3 separate regions of the Homo sapiens genome follow, and regions 1 and 2 are each linked to region 3. Evidence: fine-mapped expression QTL. A gene starts in region 3. Each other region holds a variant in brackets. All regions are shown on one strand. Distances are from middle to middle.

Evidence for each region. PIP is the estimated chance that this variant, and not a neighbour inherited with it, causes the effect. A credible set is the group of variants that fine-mapping cannot tell apart.
Region 1: its variant is the best candidate, but not a certain one, in a credible set for the expression of SMURF2 in whole blood (TOPMed, PIP 0.56).
Region 2: its variant is the best candidate, but not a certain one, in a credible set for the expression of SMURF2 in whole blood (TOPMed, PIP 0.82).

Annotation. Positions count from the first base shown.
Region 1 is chr17:64,690,393-64,698,576 of GRCh38, forward strand. No RefSeq gene overlaps it. Among named protein-coding and RNA genes, the nearest start is that of SMURF2, 32 kb to the left of the region's middle. The variant C/G (reference allele first, on the strand shown) is at 4,203.
Region 2 is chr17:64,632,791-64,640,974 of GRCh38, forward strand. The region is part of intron 1 of SMURF2 (SMAD specific E3 ubiquitin protein ligase 2); the gene reads right to left. Among named protein-coding and RNA genes, the nearest start is that of SMURF2, 25 kb to the right of the region's middle. The variant G/A (reference allele first, on the strand shown) is at 3,541.
Region 3 is chr17:64,658,507-64,666,690 of GRCh38, forward strand. It overlaps SMURF2 (SMAD specific E3 ubiquitin protein ligase 2), which reads right to left and starts at 3,801. Exons shown (of 19, transcript NM_022739.4): 1 at 3,323-3,801. The coding sequence starts at 3,374. RefSeq lists silencers at 3,295-3,494, 3,545-3,944 and an enhancer at 4,095-4,653.

The sequences.
Region 1 (8,184 bases), 32 kb after region 3:
TCTGCCCGCCTCAGCCTCCCAAAGTGCTGAGATCACTGGCGTGAGCCACCACTTCTGGCCAGTGCCATATTTTCTACTATCCTGGTAAAGTAAATATTTGTACCAAACCCCACCAAACTTGAAATGAATGGAATGTTCTTAATTTTCAAGGTGCTATCTTTAAAGGTCTTCTCCAGAATGACCTGTGATATCTTTATAGGGGCCAGGGAGTTTCCCCTCGATATCAGAATTTCTTTACTTACAAGATTATAATCTCATAAGATTATAATCTTACAATTACTTACAAGATTCTATAATTACTTACAAGATGATAATCTTACAAGATTCCATAATTACTTGCAAGATTATAATCTTATAATTACTTACAAGATTCTATAATTACTTACAAGATTATCATCTTGTAAGTAAAGAAATTCTGATATTGAGGGGAAACCCCCTGGCCCCTATAAAGATATCACAGGTCATTCTGGAGAAGATCTTTAAAGATAGCACCTTGAAAATTAAGAACATTCCATTCATTTCAAGTTTGGTGGGGTTTAACACAAATATTTACTTTACCAGGATAGTAGAAAATGTGGCGCTGGCCGGGCACAGTGGTGCACTCCTGTGATCTCTGCACTTTGGGAGGCCGAGGTGGGCAGATCACGAGGTCAGGAGCTCAAGACCAGCCTGGCCAAGATGGTGAAACACTGTCTTTACTAAAAATACAAAAATTAGCCGGGCGTGGTGGTGGGCACCCGTAATTCCAGCTACTCAGGAGGCTGAGGCAGAGACTTGCTTGAACCCAGGAGGTGGAGGTTGCAGTAAGCTGAGATCTTGGTCACTGCATTCCAGCCTGGGCGACAGAGTGAGACTCTGTCTCAAAACAAAAACAAAAACAAAAACAAAAACAAAAACACTGTGGTCTAATCTATATGTCTTTTTTCTGAATTCATTTGAACTCATTCACTGCTATCACTAACAGTTTAAAGGCTGGGCGTGGTGGCTCATGCCTGTAATCCCAGCACTTTGGGAGGCCAAGGCAACATGGTGAAATCCTATCTCTACGAAAAATATAGAAAATTAGCCGAGTGTGGTGGTGCACACCTGTGGTCCCAGCTACTCCAGGAGGTGGAGGTGGGAGATCACTAGAGCTCAGGAAGTGAAGCCTGCAGTGAGCTGAAATCGCGCCACCAGGAGTAAGACCCTATCTCAAAAAATCAAAACAAAATAAAACACAGTTTAAATACTGTATGTAGGCATTTACATTTTGGAGTTAATTTCTTTTCTTTCTTTCTTTTTTTTTTTTTTGATTCAGAGTTTTGCTCGGTCGCCTGGGCTGAAGTATCGCCATTTTGGCTCACTGAAACCTCTGCCTCCCGGGTTCAAGCAATTCTCCTGCCTCAGCCTCCTGAGTAGCTGCAATTACAGGCATGCACCACCATGCCAGGCTAATTTTTGTATTTTTAGTAGATATGGGGTTTTATCATGTTGGCCAGGCTGGTCTCGAACTCCTGACCTCAGGTGATCCACCCGCCTCGGCCTCCCAAAGTGCTGGGATTACAGGCATGAGCCACTGCGCCTGGCCTTTGGAGTTAATTTCTAAGAAAAGGCAGTGGGCACAAGTAAGTTGTAGTTCATCTTATGAACTCATTCAGAAATTTACAGCCTTTTTTAAAAAACAGAGAGTGGGTTCTTGCTCTATTGCCAAGGCTGGGGTGCAATTGCATAATCATAGCTCACTGCAGCCTCGATCTCCTGGGTTCAAGCCATACTCCCTGCCCCAGGCTTCCTAGTATCTAGGATTACAGGCATATGCCACCATGCTAATTTATTTATTTATTTATTTTTAGAGGAGAAGACAGAGGGAATCTAGCTGTTACCCAGGCTGGTCTCTAATTCCTAGCCTCAAACGATCCTCCTTCCTCAACCTCCTGAGTAGCTATTATCGGCATGAGCCATTACCCCTGGCTGAAATTTATAGTCTTTATGTATGAATTCATGAACAGCATGAAGCTTGGCCAATAGCATTTCTGAAAGTGGAACTTGGCTCATGTGAATGCTCATAACAAAAGAGAGATTGCCAAAACAAGCAACTTTCTCTAAATAGAGGCGAAATAATAGTCTTACAGAGTAAATCTTCACAATGTAAAAACATAGAGTCAGTTCACTAAATGTTCTCTAAAACATGCTTCCAACATGCTGTTAAGTGGAAAAAAACTTTTATGATATAGTATTACTGTATAAATTCATCTCTTAACAGAAAAATATATTATATATGCAGATTTCAACTTTTTTTTGGAGACAGAGTCTCACTCTGTCGCCCAAGCTAGAGTACAGTGGTGTGATCTCGGCTCCCTGCAACCTCTGTCTCCTAGGTTCAAGCAATTCTCCTACCTCAGCTTCTCCCAAGTACCTGGGATTATAAGCACCCACCACCATGCCCAGCTAATTTTTGTATTTTTAGTAGAGATGGCGTTTCACCATATTTGTCAGGCTGGTCTCCTGACCTCAGGTGATCCACCTGCCTCGGCCTCCCAAAGTGCTGGGATTACAGGCATGAGCCACTGCACCCAACCAATTTAAACATCTTAAAAGAAACACATCAAAATGTAACTAGAGGTTGTTTCTACATAATGGGACCATGGGGATTTCTATTTCTTCTTTGGCATATTTGCATTTTCTACTTTTTTCTATAATGAACATCTATTGTTAAAACAGGTAAGATACTGAATTTTAGCAAGAAAAAATATGCAAATAGAAAAGAAATAAAATAAATATACCAAATGTCAACAGTGGTTACCAGTAGATGATGGCATCATCTGAGATTTTCAACTTTCTTTTTGTTTGTTTGTTTGTTTGTTTGTTTTTTGAGACAGTGTCTCGCTCTGTTGACCAGGCTGGAGTGCAATGGCACAATCTTGGCTCACTGCAACCTCTGCCTCCTGGGTTCAAGTGATTCTCCTGCCTCAGCCTCCTCTAGCTGGGACTACAGGTGTGCACCACCATGCCAGGCTAAGTTTTGTATTTTTAGTAGAGAAAGGTTTTGCCATGTTGGCCAGGTTGGTCTTGAACTCCTGGCCTCAAGTGATCTGCCTGCCTTGGCCTCCCAAAGTGCTGGAATTACAGGGGTGAGCCACCTTGCCCGGCAAATTTTCACATTTAGCTTTGATGTTTTTTGAATTTTCCACAAAAAGTATATATTAGAATTACATTGGTAATATCACATATTATATCACCCCATATTAGATGAATGGGAAGAGGAAGATAAGTGATTACAGAGTTAGAAGGGTCACTTCAATAAACTAAGACTAAAAACTTCTGCGTTATCATCAACTGCTATAGAGTCTTTCTTTTAAAGATGTCTAATTGTCGGCTGAGTGTGGTGGCTCACGCCTGTAATCCTAGCACTTTGGGAGGCTGAGGTGGGTGGATCACGAGGTCAGGAGTTCAAGACCAGCCTGGCCAAGATGGTGAAATCCCGTCTCTACTAAAAATACAAAAATTAGCCGGGTGTGGTGGCGGGTGTGGTGGCGGGCACCTGTAATCCCAGCTACTCGGGAGGCTGAGACAGGAGAATCGCTTGAACCTGGGAGGTGGATGTTGCAGTGAGCCGAGATCGCACCACTGCACTCCAGTCTGGGCGACAGAGCAAGACTCCATCTCAAAAAACAAAACAAAAACCAACCAAACAAACAAAAAATATGTGTAATTGTCAATAGCAGGATCCCTAAATGAAGCAGATAAAGACGTGATTTGCAAGTAGCAATGACACCTTCATACTGGTCCTAATGGTAGAGGGGTTCCCTAACTCAACACTGCCCCGTTCCTGTGGTCAGAGCACCTCTCTCTGATGTCGTCAGGAACAACCCCAGGCCAAATTCAAGTGAGAAAACTGGAGCTTAACAGTGGTTCCTAGGGTTAGTTGGATCCAAAGAATCAATTGCTAAAGTAGAAGTTGAGGGAGGTGTGAGTCAAGAACAGCCTCTGTGGAAATGACTTCAGGCTTTTAGTTGACAATGGGCTCGGTGTGAGTCATTCTAGGGACATGGGCTCTTGGCCAAAGAATTGCACTGAGGATCAAGGACATGATGGTGACCTGCTGCCAGCAGCCCAGCAGCCTACGCCATAAGCAATACTTTCAGTTCTGGGTGCTTTACTGTAAATGGGACAAGGAGGAGAGGAATTAAAGTGCTTAGGGACTTCGAGTCATGTACCGCAAG[C/G]AATGTTTGGAGAAGCTGAGAAAGAAAACTCAGGGGGCGGGGCGCGGTGGCTCACGCCTGTAATCCCAGCACTTTGGGAGGCTTTGGTGGGCAGATTGCTTGAGGCTGGGAGTTTGAGACCACCCTGGCCAACATGGCGAAACCCCATCTCTACTAAAAAATACAAAAATTAGCCAGGATCATGGAGGTGCACGCCTGTAATCCCAGCTACTAGGGAGGCTGAGGCACAAGAATCGCTTGAACCTGGGAGCCAAGATTGCGCCATTGCACTCCCGCCTGGGTGACAGAGCAAGATGCTGTCTCAAAAAAAAAAAAAAGAAAAAGAAAAAAGAAAAAGAAAAGAAAACTCAGGGGACACTAACAGCTAGCTGCCTTAACATACCTGATAAGCTATCAAGTTCAGGTCAATTAAATTTGTTCCATGTGGTTCTACAGGAAGTAGCCAGGACCAGTGTGGTGGGGCTGTAATTGGAATTATACTGAGACAGACCTTGAGATAGGAGAACAGATTTTTGAGTAGTTTGAAATGGCAGAAGATACATTGGTCTTGAACCTGCTCCTCAAAGTGTGGTGCAGAATTGCAGCCTGGCTTCAGAGGAAGCCCATTAGACAAGGACTAGGTCTCAGCCCCCAGCTCAGACCTACTGAATCAGTGCCTGCAGTTTAAAAAGATGCCCAGGGCCAGGCGTAGTGGCTCACACCTGTAATCCCAGCACTTTGGGAGGCTGAGGCAGGCAGATCACTTGAGGTCTGGAGTTTGAGACCAGCCTGGCCAACATGATGAAACCCTATCTCTACTAAAAATACAAAAATTAGCTGGACATGGTGGCAGGTACCTGTAATCCCAGCTACTAGGGAAGCTGGGGCAGGAGAATTGCTTGAACCCGGGAAGGCAGAGGTTGCAGTGTGCTGAGGTCGCATCATTGCACTCCAGCCTGGTCGACAAGAGCAAGACTCTTGTCAAAAAAAAAAAAAAAATTAAATTTAAAAAAGATACTTTAGATCATTTTTTGTGCCTATTCTGCTATGTAGATAAAAAAAATTTTTGAGACATGATCTACTGTGTCATCCAGGCTGGAGTGCAGTGATGCCATCTCGGCTCACTGCAACCTCTGCCTTCCAGGTTCAAGTGATTCTCCTACCTCAGCCTCCCGAGTAGCTGGGATTACAGGGGCCCACGACCACACCTGTCTAGTTTTTGTATTTTTAGTAGAGACAGGGTTTCACCATGTTGGCCAGGCTGGTCTTGAATTCCTGACCTCAAGTGATATACCTGCCTCAGCCTCCCAAAGTGCTGGGATTACAGATGTGAGTCACCACGCCTGGCCTCATGTACAAGTTTTCATACGGAAGAACTCTTCATCTTTTACATTTCTGAAAATATATTAATGTGATGCAACTCTTTGAAAAAGTCACACATAAAATGTCTATTTTTAAAAAAATTTTTAATTTTTATTTTTTTTGAGATGGAGTCTTGCTCTGTCGCTAGGCTGGAGTGCAATGGTGCCATCTTGGCTCACTGCAACCTCCACCTCCTGAGTTCAAGCAATTCTCCTGCCTCAGCCTCCCAAGTAGCTGGGACTACAGGCACGTGCCACCACACCCAGCTAATTTTTCACCATGTTGGCCAGGATGGTCTCCATCTCTTGACCTCGTGTTCCGCCCACCTCAGCCTTCCAAAGTGCTGGGATTACAGGCATGAGCCACCACACCCAGCCTAAAATGTCTATATTTTTAAGTTCCATTATCCCATTTCTCAGAATCTGACTCAAATAAATAACATACACGTAGAAGGTACTAGGTAGGAAGTTTCTAAGCATGATATTATTTAAGCATCACTGTTTTTTCCTTCTTCTCCAGTAAAAGGTACAAAAATAAGGGCCCACCTTCTTAATAACTGAAATATGACTCACGGGACATTTTCCTTTTATCCCAAGAGGCTTCTGCAAAGAGAAAACTGGTCCATCTCCAAAGGGGCCCAACTAGGGGATGGTTGCTGGGTTGGTCTCCCACAGTGTCACAGTTGGGAAGAGACTGTTAGTGACTTGGGCACAGGATGGCACTCCTGCTCATTTCCACACAATGGCAGGTCCCAGGAGTTGCAGCCTCAGTCCCTCCCAGGTGCACCCTGGTGAGTCTCTCCTCCAGGCCCCTATGTCCTTCAGATGACCTCAGTGAGGATCAGCTCAGTCTACCAGAGAGACTCTAATACCATTAAGCCTCATAAGGGCAGATTTTCCCACCCTCTCCCCAACAACTTTTGTGTGGTATGCTCCAAGGATAATGGGTGGTGTAGCCTCACCCTTCCCCAGAACATAGGGTAACCCTTGCCTTGCGTCTACCTAACCACAAAGAACCACTCAAGGGGATCTTCTTGAAGATCAGTACCACCATTGGCAGTCTCTATTTTGAATTTGTAAAACGTTGCATGTTGCTTTCTTATTCCATTTCTGTGCACAGTCAGCTTCTGCAAATTGTTTGGATGCATCATAACTTACTTAAACAATCCCTTAGTAGGTTGTTTCCAGTCTTTTGCTAACCAATCAACAATGCGACAGATATCCTTAATAGGCATCACTGAACATGACAAAATGAATTAAATGCATCTGTAGTATACTTTGAATTTGGGTAGATAACACCAGTTAATTTGGTCTCCATAGAGATTTAGTAACTCACCTAACTCATAGCAGGTGGAGCTGGGATTCAGACTCACGTTCTCTAGGCCAGAGTTCAGCCTCATAACCACCAAGGTAAACTGCCTTTTTGATGTTTTTTGTTTGTTTGTTTTGAGACAGGGTCTCACTCTGTTGCCCAGGCTAGAGTGCAGTGTTGTGATCATACCTCACTGCAGCCTCAAACTCCTGGGCTCAAGCAATCCTCCCACCTCAGCCTCCCAAGTGGTTGGAACTGCAGGCATGCTACCATGCCCCACTAATTTTTTTTTTTTTTTTGTACAGATGAAGGTCTTACTTGTTTCCCAGGCTGGTCTTGAACTCCTGAGCTCAAGTATCCACCCACCTTGGCCTCCCAAAGTGCTGGGATTACAGGTGTGAGCCACTGCACCTGGCCACCTTTTTGAAATTTGCCAGTCTGAGATCTAAAGACTGGTACTTTTCAGTCATTTTAATGTGAATTTCTCTTACTACGAAAGAGTAAACATTGTATCATAGCTTAGTTTGTTTATTTTTCTGTGAATTGTCTATACCTAGTATTTGCCCATTTTTCCATTAAATTATTGGCTTGTTTCCATATCAATTTGTAAGAATTCTTTATATATTAGGGAAACTAGTCCTTTCTGTATTCAGAATTGAAAATACTGTTCCCAGGACGGGTGCGGTGGCTCATGCCTGTAATCCCAGCACTTTGGGAGGCCAAGGCGGGTGGATCACTTGAGGTTAGGAGTTCGAGACCAGCCTGGCCAACATGGTGAAACCCTGTCTCTACTAAAACTAAAAAAATTAGCTGGGCGTGGTGGCATGCACCTGTAATCCTAGCTATTCAGGAGACTGAGGCAGGAGAATCACTTGAACCCGGGAGGTGGGGAGTTGCAGTGAGTCGAGAATGCGCCATTGCACTCCAGCCTAGGCAACAAGAGCGAAACTCCATCTTAAAAAAAAAAAAAAAAGAAATACTGTTCCCAGCTTGTCTTTTGACTTAACTTATAATGGTTACTGCCATGAAGAAAATAGATTTTTATATCCATTTTTTATTTTATGGATTCTGAACTTAGTTTTATAGTTGGACAAAATTTTCATTTATGAAATAATAAAAAAAACTCTCCAATGGATTTTTCAAGTATTTCATAGTTTTTCTTTTTTTTTCACATCTAAATATTGGGTACATTTGGAATTCGTCCCAGTGAAAGATACGTATCCAATATTCCCCCCAGATGGCCACTCAGTTGTCTCCACACTGTTTTTTAAATTACCTATCAGTCCCATTGATTTATACCACCCTTATCATACATTAAATCCCACTGGCA
Region 2 (8,184 bases), 26 kb before region 3:
AAGAGAAGGGCTGTGAGCCCTTGGACAAATGACTTAACCTCTCTGAGATCAGTGTTTTCTGATGACAATATGATAGTATTTGTACTCGCCTACTTCAGAGTATTATTTTGAGGATTAAGTGAGATGACTTAGGTAAAGAGTTTCTTAAAACTTTGCAAATAGGGATACACAGTATTTATTGTTATAACAGAAGGTAGAGGCTGCATGTGGTGGCTCAAGTCTGTAATCTCAGCACTTTGGGAGGCCAAGGCAGGGAGATAGCTTGAGCCCAGAAGTTCGAGGCCAGCCTGGGCAACCTGAGGAGACCCTGTCTCTATAAAAACACAAAAATTAGCCAGGCGTGGTGGCACGCACCTATAGTCCCAGCTACTTGGGAGGCTGAAGTGGGAGGATGGCTTGAGCCCAGGAGGCCGAGGCTGCAGTGAGCCATGATCATATCACTGTACTCCATCCTGGGTGACAAAGCAAGACCCTGTTTCAAAAACAAAACAAAACAAAAAAACAGATCTCTACCTATAGATTCTTCTATATCCAGGTACTGGGAGTCAATCAGGGTCCCTCAAAATCAAATAGAGGAAAGAACAACTTCAAAGAGAAAGCAGAGTATAAAAACAGAGAAAGAACACTCCCTTTCCACTTAAACCCTCCATACCCACACCGGTATCATTCCATCCCAGGTGAAAATGTTTATTAGCTGGGTAAAAATAAATACATAAATCCCTTTACCATATATTTACAATACAATATAGTAAGAATAACCATTAAATATGTCATATTCACTTTGTTGCAAGTTTAAATTCCAGGATTCAACTAGCATCATTGGTTTGTTTTTCACATAACATGAATTATCTTACAACTTCAGTTGATTAGAGGCATTAGAGAATCAGTAATAATTCTGGTCCCTACAATTCTGAGCCTTCAATAATATGCTGAAAACACCAAACAACTTTCAATTCTAAACTTTAGAGGTAACTTATAAACACAGGCAACTACCAAGAGATTAGCCCCCCACCCCCCAAAAAAATGTTGTGAAGAGTTTTATACTCTCCATACAAAGTTACTGTAAAAACATAAAATTTATATAGGCTGAGTGTGGTGGCTCATGCCTGTCATCCCAACACTTTAGGAGGCCGAGGTGGGCAGATCACCTGAGGTCAGGAGCTTGAGACCAGCATGGCCAACATGGCGAAACTGTCTCTACTAAAATACAAAAATTAGCCAGGTGTGGTGGTGCGCGCCTGTAATCCCAGCTACTTGGGAGGCTGAGGCACAAAAATAGCTTGAACCCAGAAGCTGGAGGTTGCAGTGAGCCGAGATCCCACCACTGCACTCCAGCCTGGGCGACAGTGAGACTGTTTCAAAACAAAAAACAAAAACAAAAAGAGAATAACTGGCTGCTAGCATTCTTGGAGCTAAGTAATACAAGGGGGCTGGGAGTTTCACCATTTAAAGATGTGGCAAATCCCCTCATTTTCAGCTGGGCATTTCTTTACCACCTTCCACAGCACCAGGTATTCCTGGGTCTATAGGCAGTCTGGCTTTCTCCACAAGATAAATCTTTGACTTTTTTGTGAGGTTGGGTAAGAACACTCATCTGCTTGCCTAGGATGAGGCATGTATAGAACTTTCCACTGACTTTAAACCATTTCCTGCTTTCAGCTTCACATCTTGCTTGCACCCTCAGAGATACCTGGCACCTTCAATTCCTGAGTCTTCCTAGAGATAGGTGATATGAACTGGCTAGAATCATGCAAGGAATTGGTATCCGCCTCTGTAGATATTTTATATTCCACTTTCTCAGCTAATTAATCTACTCCAACCACCTTCCATTTCCCTGAAGTTTTTTTATACCACTTATTTACTGTCTCCTGTTCTTTCTGCTCTTGCAGATTTATGCTGTTTTCATTCTCTTACTCACTGTGAATGGGGCTTGGGGACAGAGCAGAAATAAACATATTTGTTCAATTCAAGCTTAAAAAGAAGACACAGTCCTTGAATGATTTTTATCTGATGCTAATACATATCCTGGGTGCATTCAGATTTCATGAAGCCTGGAGTTTACAGAGTTTGGAGGCTCCATTTTAAGAGCACAGAATTGGGTATTGACAGCCAATATTCAATTTAGAATGAGAAAATAAATCATAAATTTTAACAAACTGGCAAAAGCCACAAACATCATAACCTAATAATAATAATAATAATATTTGTTATGACAAGTTTTTTTCCCATTTGTTTCCAGATAAAAGTCACATAAGGCCAGGCATGGTGGCTCACACCTGTAATCTCAGCACTTTGGGAGGCCAGGGTGAGTGGATCGCTTGAGGCCAGAAGTTCATGACCAGCCTGGCCAACATGGTGAAATTCCATCTCTATTAAAAATACAAAAATTAGCTGGGCGTGGTGGTGCACAGCTGTAATCCCAGGTACTTGGGAGGCTGAGGCACGAGAATTGCTTGAACCAGGGAGGTGGAGGTTGCGGTGAGCCGAGATCACACCACTGCACTCTGGCCTGGGCGACAGAGCGAGACTAGGTCTCAAAATAAATAAATAAATAATAAAAGTCACATAACATGAAAATCACCAAGTTAAACTGTATAATTCAATAATTTTTAGCATAGTCACAGTGCTGTACAACCATCACCAATATCTAATTCCAGAACATTTCCATCACCCCAAAACAACCCCCATACTACCTGTTAGCAGTCACTCCCCATCTTCCCTCCCCCATCCCCTAGCAACCTGAAAATCTACCTTCTGTCTATGGATTTGCCAAGTGGAATTAAACAATATGGCTTTTTGTGTCTGGCTTCTTTCAATCAACCTAATTTTTTGAGCTCATCCATACTATAGCATACATCATCAGCACTTTATTCCCTTTTATGGCTGAATAATATTCCATTGTATAGATATGCCATATTTTGTTTATCCATTCAGTTGACAGACATCTGAGTTGTTTCCACCCAACTATTTTGGCTGTTATGAATAATGCTACTATGCACAAGATTTTGTGTGAACATATGTTTTCAGTTCTCTTATGTATGTACCTAGGAATGGAATTGCTGAGTCATGTAGTAACTATGTTTAATTTTTCTGAAAAACTGCCACAAACTGTTTAGCAGAGTGGTTGAACTACTTTACATTCCCACCAACAATGTATGAGGGTTCCAATTTCTCCACATCTTTGCTAACATTTGTTATTTTCCCATTATTATAGCCCTTCTAGTGGTCGTGAAGTAGTATCCCATTGTGGTTTTCATTTTCATTTCCCTAATGATTCATGATATTGGGCATCTTTTCATGTGCTTTTTGGCCACTGATATATCTTCTCTGGAGAACTGTCTATTCAAACCCTTTGCCCTTTTTTTTGAAATGTGGTCTCACTATGCTGCCCAGGCTGTTCTCAGGGGATCCTCCCACCTCAGCCTCTCAAGTAGCTGAGACTATAGGCATGTGCCAACACATCTGGCTAGCTGCCCATTTTTTAACTGGATTGTTTGTCCTTTTATTGTTGAGTTTTAAGAGTTCCTTAAGGCCGGGTGC[G/A]GTGGCTCACACCTGTAATCCCAGCACTTTGGGAGGCTGAGGTTGGTGGATCACCTGAGATCAGGAGTTCAAGACCAGCCTGGCCAACATGGCAAAACTCCATCTCTACTAAAAATATAAACATTAGCTGGACGTGGTGGCACACACCTGTAATCCCGGCTACGCGGGAGGCTGAGGCAGGAGAATCGCTTGAACCCAGGAGGTGGAGGTTGAGTGAGACGAGATTGCATGCCACTGCACTCAGCCTGGACATCAGGGCCAGACTCTGCCTCAAAAAAAAAAAAAAAAAAAAAAAAAAATTAGCTGGGCATGGTGGTGTGCACCTGTAGTCCCAGCTACTCAGGAGGCTGAGGCAGAAGAATCACTTGAACCCAGGAGGTGGAGGTTGCAGTGAGCTAAGATCATGCTGCTGCACTCCTGCCTAGGCGACAGAGCAAGACTCCGCCTCAAAAAAAGAAAAAAAAAAAAAGAGTTCTTTATATATTCTGTATACTAGACCCTTATCAGGTATAATTTATAAATATTTTCTCTCATTCTATGAGTTATCTTTTAGCTTTCTTATTAGTGTCCTTTTGGACACAAACGTTTTTAATTTTGATAGAGTCTAGGCTGGGTGCAGTGGCTAATACCTGTAATCCTGTCACTTTGGCAGGCCGAGACAAGAGGATCTCTTGAGCCCAGGAGTTCGAGACCAGTCTGGGCAACAGAGTGAGACCTCATCTTTACAAAAATAAATAAATAAGATTTTTGTTTAAATTGACAGAATCCAATCCAAAGTCTTGTGTTTCTATCTAAGAGATTTTTTTTTTTTTTTGAGACACAGTCTTGCTCTGTCACCCAGGCTGGAGTGCAGTGGCACGGTCTCGGCTCACTACAATCTCCGCCTCCCAGGTTCAAGCGATTCTCTTGCCTCAGCCTCCCAAGTAAGTGAGATTACAGGTGCCTGCCACCATTCCTGGCTAATTTTTGTATTTTTAGTAGAGACGGGGTTTCATCATGTTGGCCAGACTGGTCCCGAACTCCTGGCCTCAAACAACCACTCGTCTCGACCTCCCAAAGTGCCAGGATTACAGGTGTGAGCCACCACACCCAGCCATCCATCTAAGAGTCTTATGGCTTGCATTGTTACATTTAGTCTTTAATCCACTTTGAGTTAATTTTTATATATGGCATGAGGTAGAGGTTCAACTTCATTCTTTTGCATGTGGAAATCCAGTTGGTCCAACACATTATTATTATTATTATTTTCTTGAGACGGAGTCTCATTCTGTTGCCCAGGCTGGAGTGTAATAGTGCGATCTTGGCTCACTGTAACTGCTGCCTCCCAGGTTCAGGCGATTCTCCCACCTCTGCCTCCCCAGTAGCTGAGACTACAGTCGTGTGCCACCATGCCTGGCTAATTTTTGTATTTTTAGTAGAGACAGGGTTTCACCATGTGGACCGTGCTGGTCTCAAACTACTGACTTCAAATGATCCACCCACCTTGGCCTTCCAAAGTGCTGGGATTACAGGTGTGAGCCACAGAACCCGGTCCCAATGCCATTTTTTAAAAAGACTAATCTTTCCCCATTGAATGGTTTTGGCGCCCTAGTCAAAAAAAAAAAAAAAAAAAATCAACTGACCACAAATGTATAATTTTCTTTCTGGACTTTCTATTCTATTCCATTGATCTATATCTCAATCCTTACACCAGTACCACACTTTCCCATGAGTTTTTTTTTTTTCCTTTTTCTTTTTTTTTTTTTTTTTTTTGACAGAGTCTCACTCTGTTGCCCAGGCTGGAGTGCAGTGGCACGATCTTGGCGGCTCACTGCAACCTCCACCTCCTGGGTTCAAGTGATTCTCCTACCTCAGCCTCCCAAGTAGCTAGGATTACAGGCATGTGCCACCAAGCCCGACTAATTTTTGTATTTCTAATAGAGATGGGGTTTCACCATGGTGGCCAGGCTGGTCTTGAACTCCTGACCTCAAGTGATCCACTCACCTCAGTTTCTCAAAGTGCTGGGATTACAGGCATGAGCCACTGCGCCTGACCAATTTTTGTATTTTTATTAGAGACAGTGTTTCGTCATGTTGGGCAGGCTGGTCTCAAACTCCTGACCTCAAGTGATCTGCCTGCCTCAGCCTCCCAAAGTGCTGGGATTACAGGCGTAAGCCACCACGCTCAGCCTGTTGTTATTGATGGCTTAGAAAAGTTTTCTTTTAGCACAGGAACATCATCAATAAATAATGTTATATCAACTTTTAGGACTATGGTCAAACCTGGGAAAATTCTTAACAAGTCTCTTTCATTAAAGCTACAAAATCTTAAAGAATTTTCCCCAGACTGGCTTTTGACATCAAACCTTGTTTTTCCTCTACTAACCACACACTTTGGGTGCCAGATGCCATAGGACACATTCATATTGCTAGACAACCTCTAGCTATGCACGTTTATGTCACAATGCCCCATGAGTTAGCACAACAGACATAGAGTATTCCTAGAAACCATTCCCATACTGGGATGGCTAGTAATACCTTGACTATACACAAAGAGGCTATGAACCATGTAAACATATCCTGCTAAAATCCAACTAAATATCTCTCCAAGTCAATTTCCCCATAGCCAGACCCCAAAAGTGCCCACAGCCATTCCAATGCCACCCAACATAAGGAAGAGTGTAACAAAGGGGAAGTCAGGTAAAAAGACGGCAATTTTAGCTGACTGTGGTTTAGATAACTTACATTTGCAAATTCTTCAAAGATATGTGACCACATACTGGCAATGTTCTGTTTCTTGATCTGGATGCTAGTTATATATGTGTGTTCAGTTTGTGAAAAATCTTAAACTACACACTTATAATATTTATGAATTTTCTCATTCATATATTATATACCAATAAAACTTTTTAAAAATTAACCAAGTGAACACATTGCTAGGGTCCCTCCCAGACCCTCAGATTGGGTCTTGAAAATTAAGCTTCAGGCTGGGCGTGGTGAGTCACACCTGTAATCCCAGCACTTTGGGAGGCTGAGGTGAGTGGATCACTTGAGGTCAGGAGTTCCAGACCGGCCTGACCAACATGGGAAAACCCTGTCTCTACTAAAAATACAAAAATTAGCCAAGCCTGGTGGTGCACATCTGTAATCCCAGCTACTTGGGAGGCTGAGGCAGGAGAATCACTTGAACCCGGGAGGCGGAGGTTGCAGTAAATTGAGATCGCACCACTGCACTCCAGTCTGGGCGACAGAGCGAGACTCTGACTCAAAAAAAAAAGAAAATTAAGGTTCATTAGTTTCAAAGAGATAATAGCAACTGGATATCATAAGATGTGGTGTCTAATACCAGCTATACCATGAATTACCCATGGGACTTGGAGAAGACACATATGCCTCCCTAAGCAATTTTCTCACCTAAAATGGGGAAGTTTAAGTCAGACTATAAACTCTAAGACTTCTTTCCAGTAGTCACTCAAGAAATACTTCCCAAGTACCCGTTACTGTTTGGCATCACATTAGGTAAATGAAACACACACACAATCCCTGCCCTGTGGGTGCTCCCCATCTAATAGGGATTAAAAAACAATGAGCAGCATTAGGTAAAAACTAATCGGAATAAATATGGATTTTAGTTAATAAAAGTGTACCAATATTGGTTCATTAATTATAACAAATATACCATACTAATGTAAGATTAGTTTAGTTAATAGGGAAAACTGGTTATGGAAATACAGGAATTCTATACTATCTTCAGATTTACAGATCTTTAGATTTACAGATTTTTCTTATCTTTAGACTTACAGGTTTTTCTATACATCTAAAAGTATTCTAAAATCAAAAGTTTATTTTTAAAAAGACAGTAAACAGGTAAATAAATGAATATTAAAAGAAATTGTGTTCAGTTCTCAGAAGTTAACAGGATATTATGGAGGTAGCATAATGAGAGTAGAGACTACTTTAGACAGACTACTTAGGAACTCTTTGAGATAATACAACTGACACAGAAAAATAAGAAGAAACAAGAGAAAGAAAATTCCTTCAAAAGAAAGAATATATACAAAGACTCTGAGGTGGAAGAGATTGGCCTTTTCAAGAAATTAAAAGAAAATCCACGTGACTAAAGCATAATGAGCAAAGGAAAGCCCAGTCAACAGGGGCAGATTATATAAGGTCTTGGATAAATAGTGTCTATTTCATTCAAAGTATAATGGAAAGACACTGGAGGGTTAAAGCAAGGAAGTAAAATCATCCAATTTACTTTTTTCTTTTTTAATTCATGAAGCTATACTGTGGAGAATGGATTATAGACGGGTTAAAGAAAAACAATGAGGCCGGGCACAGTGGCTCACACCTATAATCCCAGCACTTTGGGAGGCCAAGGCAGGCAGATCACGAGGTCAGGAGACCAAGACCATCCTGGCCAACATGGTGAAACCCCGTCTGTACTAAAAATACAAAAATTAGCTGGGCATGGTGGCGGGTGCCTGTGATCCCAGCTACTCAGAAGGCTGAGGCAGGAGAATCATCTGAACCAGGGAGTCGGAGATTGCAGTAAGCCGAGATCATGCCACAGCACTCCAGCTTGGCAACAGAGTGAGACTCCATCTCAAAAAAAAAAAAAGAAAAAAGAAAAAAAAGAAAAACAATGCAGACCCTATAGGGAAG
Region 3 (8,184 bases):
CTTCCTTACATTATAGACAAGGTTAACCTCCTTATTGCCAAGGGCTTTGAAATTAATAACATGAGAAGCAGCATACAAAAACATTAAATGTATAAAAAGGTCTGAAACAAATGTTCTGGAGGAGTAATCTTATTCTGCTTCTCCATACCTAAGAATTTAAAATATTAGAAATTACACTAAACTGCTTTTTCCAGCCTTTGGTTTTCAGAAACAATAATGGTATAAAAAATTATCCCAAAGTTTTTACTGTAAAGAATATTTTTCTATCCAAACCATTGAAAGAAAAGCCTGTATCAGATATAAGTATAATGATATAGACATTATACATTTTGTAATCAATGTTATAGAAACAGTAGTTGAAGTTGATAGTGTTACCATACAGCCCATTTCAATGATCATATGTTAATGTGTCATAAAGAACAGAAGTAGCTTGATGGATGAAATCAGATTCTAACCCCCAACTGCCTGAGGAATCTAAAATTTGGGATCAAATTATTAAATTAGCCCCACCTTCTTAGCATTGACAAATACCAAACAGTTCACTGATTGTGGTTTTAAGAATAATATGTGGAAAGGTTTAATATCAATTGTGGGCAGAGATCTCATGGCTTAAATATTTCCTCTTCTTCAGAGAGAGTGTGTATGAGTGTGTGAGTGTGTGTGTGTGAGTGTGTGCATCACCATGTAAGAAATGTTTATACCTTTCAGCAAAGGGGCAATTCCACAATAAAGTTATTATCAAGTAACTAAAGTTTATACAGCATCTTGAAATCAAAGGTACTCTATAAATTTAAAATACTAATATGGTATTAACTTAAAGCAAAGAACAATAATTTTAAAACACCTTATAGCCCAAGTGTATTGTAAACCAAATATAAATTCACTGTGGGATCTGTCTTTTTTTAAGTGATTTTTTTTCCTCTATTAGGCAACCCAGATCTAAATGAACTGTTAAACACTTAGTCTAAAGGTATGCCAAACATTTCTTAAGGTCTTCACAAAGAATCAACTTTTTTTTTTTTTTTTTTTTTAAACAAAATGAGGCCTAGGTTAAATATTTTATTTGGCTTCTCAAGATGGACTGAGAAGTTGGGCACCAGCTCCAGACCAATTCCTGGACGCACATCAAACACAGCCCTGTCATTTATCCAGTCAGTCAAAACAATCTTTTCCATCTAACCCTTTAATGTTTATGTCCTAAAAAGCTGCTAATTGAATCCAGCTCTTGAGATCTATTTGCTAAAATCTATACCATCTAATTTATAAATGATGAACAAAAATGGAAGAAAAAATATGTTAACTTTCCTGGCAAAACAGAAGAGACTCCACTGTAACCAAAGAAGGAAGGACAATGTTTTTAATATTTGTCAAATTTTAAGAGAAAACTATTCAGAGACAAATAGTTGTAAGAAACTCAGAGTACCTCAAACTGTTTTTACTATTAAGAGGACACAGGGTATTTAAAATTCCTCAGAAAAACCTGAAACAAAATCACTATAAATGTAGTTCAATATTCCCCCTTCCCCTAAAATATAAGCATAATCTTTCCTCTTAATAAACTTTAATTATAAATTCTTATAATGTATCATAGGCAGTACGGAAACCACAGATAAACACTTTAAGATCTATTAAGTCATACTAAAAACCTCAACTAACCTTATCTGCAGAAAATCAAAAACCCAATTTTTTCCCTCATTTTCTCTACATAGCCCAGAGGAGGGTAAATGGAAACAGCCTATTTCTGATGCTTTCTGCACACCTGGGATCACATGTTCTTTCCACGATCACTGACTACAGACAGCAACAGCAACAGATAAACTCTAAAGCAACAAAGATCCCCTATAAAGGTTTCCACTGACTCCTCCCAATGTAAGGACACTGAATGAGGGGGGAGGGGGTGGAATACAAGTATCCTCCAATCCAGGTTTTCCATTAAGAATCACTCAGTTAATGATTCCCTGCAATTTTCCCTAGGGAAAGGAAAACTGCCATGAAAGTAATATATTATTTAAATTGCAGCCAACATACATTCAAGCTAAATTCTCAAATACCAAATTCACTGCAAGTTTTCATCCAGCAAGTTCAGCCAGTGGACTGGGATGTGACACACAGGCATTTAACTACAAAATTAGTCCAAATAAATCTCAAAGTCTAGTGTGGGCAAACATAATTACAGTTTATCCGTACACGTGCACGCACACACAAATCCTCTACGGAAAATTATCTTTCTCACCACTCACCCGAATACAAACGTGGACAATTTATCAGGGGTAAATGGTGAAGGTAGGATAACGCCGTGATTCCAATTCCTTTACAAACCAAATAAAAGTTCTCCTAAAACGGGGGTGGCATGTCCATGTAAGAATACCAAAAATGGCACTGTAAGCAAAACGTACCTGTAATGTTAAAGATTTCATGCACCTGGAATCATAAACACTTTGTAAGTGTAGTCTTCTATCTGGCAACCCCTCCGGACATTCTTTTCCATTTCGAAAAAGGAATGGGGAGGGTGGGGAGAGTAACAGAAAGTTTGCTCGAAAGTTTGTATGAGCACATACTTAGCAATGCACCCCCCCCAAAAAAGTGTGTTTTTAAAGCAGGTCTGGCGTTAGAAGTTAGACACAAGTTCTGCGGCCTAAAAGGAACAACCCCAAACATGCCACCCTACAATCAGACACTTCCAAAACACAGTGTACAATGAGCCCAAGCCGTCGGATCAGACAGGCACACCGGAAAAGTCAACCTGTCTCCTCACCTCAGAGACATGAGTTTAAGGTGTGTGGCCCGGGCAGCGGTGGCCGGCGGCGGGGAGTAAAGGTTTTTCATGCGGGCATAACTGGGTGTGTGCAAGGTAACAACCCGGGAACACACACGCACACCCTCCCGTTAAGCGCTCCATCTTTAAGGAGTGTTTACTGCGCGCAGTCAGCAACCGGATTCAATAATCCTCGCCACGGGAGCTCTTCATCCCCTTCACGATCTCACCTGGGCGGTAGCCCAGGGGCTGTTCCCCGAGCCCCGGGAGGCAGCGTCTGGCTCCTTGACCAAGACTTTCCGACCTGAAATCCGCCTGCGATGCGAACCGGTGTATTCTCCCCTCCACAAAACACCACCCCCCGCCCCGAGTCATCCTCGGCTTTTTAAACAATGTCCAAACCAGAGCAAGTGGTTTTCCAATTACTCTCCCTGAACTAGGCCTTCCCATTCCTCCGACCCCCAACTCATCATTGATCGCGACCCTGGCCCTTCCCAAGGCCACAGGCACCCCCCGCCAGCTCGCCCACCCCGCGGCTGCCCAGCCCGGCCCGCCGCCCCCCCTCACCTGTCAGGCGCAGCTTGACGGGCCCGTTCCTCCGGCCTCCGGGGTTAGACATGTCCCCGGCGGCGGGGGCGGCGGGGGCGGCGGGCGGCACGGGGGCGACGGCGAGGCGCGGCGGAGTCACCACAGCGGCCGGGGCTGGGGCCCGAGCAGCCGGCGCCTCGGCCGCCACGGCCGGAGGGTCCCGGATGTGCCGAGAGTCGTCGCCATGAGCCGCGGAGGGAGCGGGACGCCGAGCTCCCCCCTCCTCCCACTTCTCCTTCCTCGGCCCGGGCCGCACAACAAAGCGGCAGCCGCGGCCGCCCGCGCCGCCTCCGCCCGCGCCCCCGCCGCCTCCTCGCGGCCGCCGAGGCCTTTCCCTCCTCTCGTCTCGGCGAGGCCCAGTAGCCGACGGGGCTGGTCGGCTGAAGCGGGCGGTGCTCGGGGGCGCCGGAGCAGAACTCTGGGCTCGGCCGCTTCCTCCTCCACCCGCCCTCTTGTCTGAGGGACCCGGGACCTGGGGCCGCCGCCGCCACTCGTCGGCTCCGGGGGGCGGGGAGGAGACGGGAGGCGGGGCCGGCGGGGCGGGGCGGGGCCGGGGCGGGGCCGGCGGGCGCGCGCAGGGTGCCCTGGCGGGCACCGGCAGTCAGGGAGGGTGTGAGCTGCCGCCGAGGGTCCCACGCGGAACGCTGGGAGGGAGCAGGCAGGGAGCAAAGCGGCGGCGGGCGCGGCAGCTCTGTGGCACCTGGAGGGGTTTACTGTCCGGGCCACTTAAGGGAGAACTTTTGTCCAAGCAGGGCCAACTGCATTTTATTAGACGCCCACTGCGTGCAGGGCGCTCCGAGAGGCTGGGGCGAGGAAGGTTAGAACCGAGTCCGCTGCCTGCCGGGAACTTGGCGTCTTTCGGGCGAGGGAAGAGAAAGCATTCCCACGCCGATGGTTCCAGCAAAACCCCAGGAATGCTCTGCTCCTGGTCTTGTAGTTGACACCTCCATCCGGGACTCACCTGGTGGAGGAGATCAGGTTACCTGCCGACTCCCGCTCTTTTCAGGTGCAGCCAAGGATGGGGAGATGATACGTCTTAAAGGATTAACAAGATAAACCTTGGAGAGTAATGTATGAAGAGTTGTTCATACGCTACTGTATTTCGTTATCTCAGGAGGAGAAAGAGAAAAGTTTTTAAAAAATGTGTACCTTATCCTTTGACATTGTAACTGTACTGCTAGAAATTTATTTTTTATTTTTTTGTTTTTAGACAGGGTCTCCCTCTGTCGCCCAGGCTGGAGTGCAGTGGTGCGAACACGGCTCACTGCAGTCTCAACTTCCGGGGCTCAGGTGATCCTCCCACCTGAGCCTCTGGAGTAGCTGAGACCACAGTGTGCACCACTACGCCCCACTAATTTTTGTATTTTTAGTAGAGACATGTTTAGTAGAGACGTTTAGGTTTTCCCATGTTGCCCAGGCTGGTCACGAACTCCTGACCTCAAGCGATCAGCCCGCCTCGGCCTCCCAAAGTGCTGGGATTACAGACCTGAGCCACCGCACCGGCCCTATTCTTGACAAATAATCGTACAGAAGATGTTCTTTGCTATATTCCATTAATAACAAAAGGGGAATGAGGGAATAGCATAATAGTCCAGGAACCGCATGGTTTTTTATGCAGCCATGTAACTATTTTTATGAAGATCATATAATATGGAAGAATGTATATGTAATGCAAAGTTTAAAAACAGAATAGAAGTTGTATGCATATACATGCGAAAGTATCTAGCACAATGTAAACTACTAAGGACAATAGCGTGGGGGATTTTTTATGTGATTCGTTAGTTTTGCTTTAGGCTATTATAACATTAATGCAATTTTAAATGTTTTGGATTAATATATTTTAATCCTTATTCCATGCCAGTCATTTCTTTTAATACATCAGTGAACTCACTTCTCCAGATAGTTACCTGCGAGAACATTTCATCAGTTTGGATACAGCCCTACAATTAAAAGTAATCCAAAAAAGTATATGAAGTTCTAGACATCACACTAAAAATACCACAGATAGGCCGGGCACAGTGGCTCACGCCTGTAATTCCAACACTTTGGGAGGCCGAGGTGGGCGGATCATTTGAGGTCAGGAGTTTGAGACCAGCCTGGCCAACATGGTGAAACCCCGTCTGTACTAAAAAAAAATACAAAAAAATTAGCCGGGCCTGGTGGCGCATGCCTGTGGTCCCAGCAATTAGGGAGGCTGAGGCAAGAGAATCGCTTGAACACGGGAGGTTGCAGTGAGCCGAGATCACGCCACTGCACTTCAGCCTGGGTGACAGAGCGAGACTCCATATCAAAAATAAATACATAAATAAATAAAAATTAAAATACCAGAGATAGTGCCAGCAATTCATTCAACAAATATTAAGTGGCCATTTTGTGCAAAGCAATGAACAAGGTCCTTTAGAAATGCTTCCTTGTACTACAAATATATAGAAATCAATGTGAACAATAGCTGCTACCACAATTTAAGAGGGCAGACAGTGGCAAAAAACTTAGCAAACTAATGTACACATACACATTTGCCTTATTTTTACAGCACGCTTTGTTCCCAACCACCCAACTAACATAATTTGTAGCCTTGTATTAGGTAATAGAAGTTAGGATTTCAGAACGTCATGGGAGACCTGGGGGAGACTGCTTGTTTTGAAGTTGAAAGCAGTAAATTAAAAAATGTAAGTGACAGCATAGAAAAATGTATATAGGGTTAACGTGCAGAGGTTTGTATTTAGGCTTTCTTGTAAGGTTAAATCCTGTTGTTTAAAACAAATATTCAGATAAGAATAACACTAAAACCATTCAAGGGCTGGGCATGGTGACTCATGCCTGTAATCCTAGCACTTTGGGAGGCCGAGGCAGAGGAGTCACTTGAGCCCAGGAGTTTGAAACCAGCCTGGGCAACATGGCAAAACCCCGTATCTACAAAACATTAGCCAGGAGTGGTGGCCTGCACCTATAGGCCCAGCTACTCAGGAGGCTGAGATAGGATCACCTGAGCCTGTGGAGGTCAAGGTTGCAGTGAGCCGTGATCACACCACTGCATTCCAGTGCCACTGCATTCCATCCTGGGCAGCATACTGAGACTATCACAAAAATAAAAAGAAAATCAATGTACTGGTAATGATTTTTTTAAGCAGGTACATGGATGTTCATTTTATTGTTTTCCTTGCCATCTTAAATATTGACATTGACTGTAAACATTTATTTAAAAGTAACTAAATGTTTAAAATGAAGTAAAATAAATGAAAACATAGAACAGGGGCAGAGCGTGGTGGCTAACACCTGTAATCCCCACACTTCGGGAGACCAAGGTGGGAGGATCACTGGAGCCCAGGAGGTTGAGGCTGCAGTGAGCCATGATTATGCCATTGCACTCCAGCCTGGGCAACAGAGTAAGACCCTACCTCAAAAAACAAATGCACTCAAAAACAGAATACTCATAATAGGAAAGTCATTTTGAAGGCCTCTCTTAAGTGAGTGGCCTCATCTAGTCCAGGCTCAGATTTCAGAGACGATTGGGTTAGAAAGTTTAAAAAAACAAAAAAGTTTATGTGTTTCTCTTCCCTTGGGGATATGTTTATGTCCCCAAAGGGGGATATATATACATTATAATGACAACATGTAGGGAATTACCAAATTAATAGCCGGAACTTGGGAAAGATAAGACGGAAAATTAAGGGATGGGAATCTTAGGTAAAATCAATTATATACATTCAGGTGTAAAAGTCTTTGAGGAAAGGAAAATAGCATTGGACATGAAAACAGAACCATTCTTTTTTTTTTTTTAGACGGAGTCTCACTCTGTTGCCCAGGCTGGAGTGCAGTGGTGCAATCTCGGCTCACTGCAACCTCCACCTCCTGGGTTCAAGTGATTCTCCTGCCGCAGCCTCCTGAGTAGCTGGGATTACAGGCACCCACCACCACACCTGGCTAATTTTTGTATTTTTTTTTTTTTTTTTAGTAGAGACGGGGGTTTCCCCATGCTGGTCAGGCTGGTCTCGAACTCCTGACCTTGTGATCCACCCTCCTCGGCCTCCCAAAGTGCTGGGATTACAGGCGTGAGCCACTGTGCCCAGCAGGACCATTCTTTACATATCAAAATATTACTATGAGATTCATTCAGCCACCATTTTTATTTTATTTTATTTTATTTTATTTTATTTTATTTTTTGAGTTGGAGTCTCACTCTGTCACCCAGGCTGGAGTGCAGTGGTGCGACCTTGGCTCATTGCAACCTCTGCCTTCCAAGTTCACGTGATTCTCCTGCCTCAGCCTCCGGAGTAGCTGGGATTATAGGCACCTGCCACCACCCCCAGCTAATGTTTGTATTTTTAGTAGAGGTGGGGTTTCACCATGTTGGCCAGGCTGGTCTCAAACTCTTGACCTCAGGTGATCCGCCTGCCTAGGTGTCCCAAAGTGCTAGGATAACAGGCGTGAGCCACCGCGCCCGGCCCTATTCTTGAAAAATAAGTAATAGTACAGAAGATGTTCTTTGCTAAATTCCATTAATAACAAAAAAGAAATGAGGGAACAGCATAATGATCCGTAAACTGCATGGTCTTTTGGGGTTTTGTTGTTGTTGTTGTTGTTGTTGTTTGTTTTTTGAGACGGAGTCTCCCTCTGTCGCCAGGCTGGAGTGCAGTGGCGCCATCTCGGCTCACTGCAACCTCCGCCTCCCAGGTTCAAGCAATTCTCCTACCTCAGCCTCCGAGTAGCTGGGACTACAGGCGCGCGCCACAATGCCCAGCTAATTTTTTGTGTTTTTAGTAGAGACAGGGTTTCACCATGTTGGCCAAGATGGTCTCAATCTCTTGATTTCATGATCCGCCCACCTCGGCCTCCCAAAG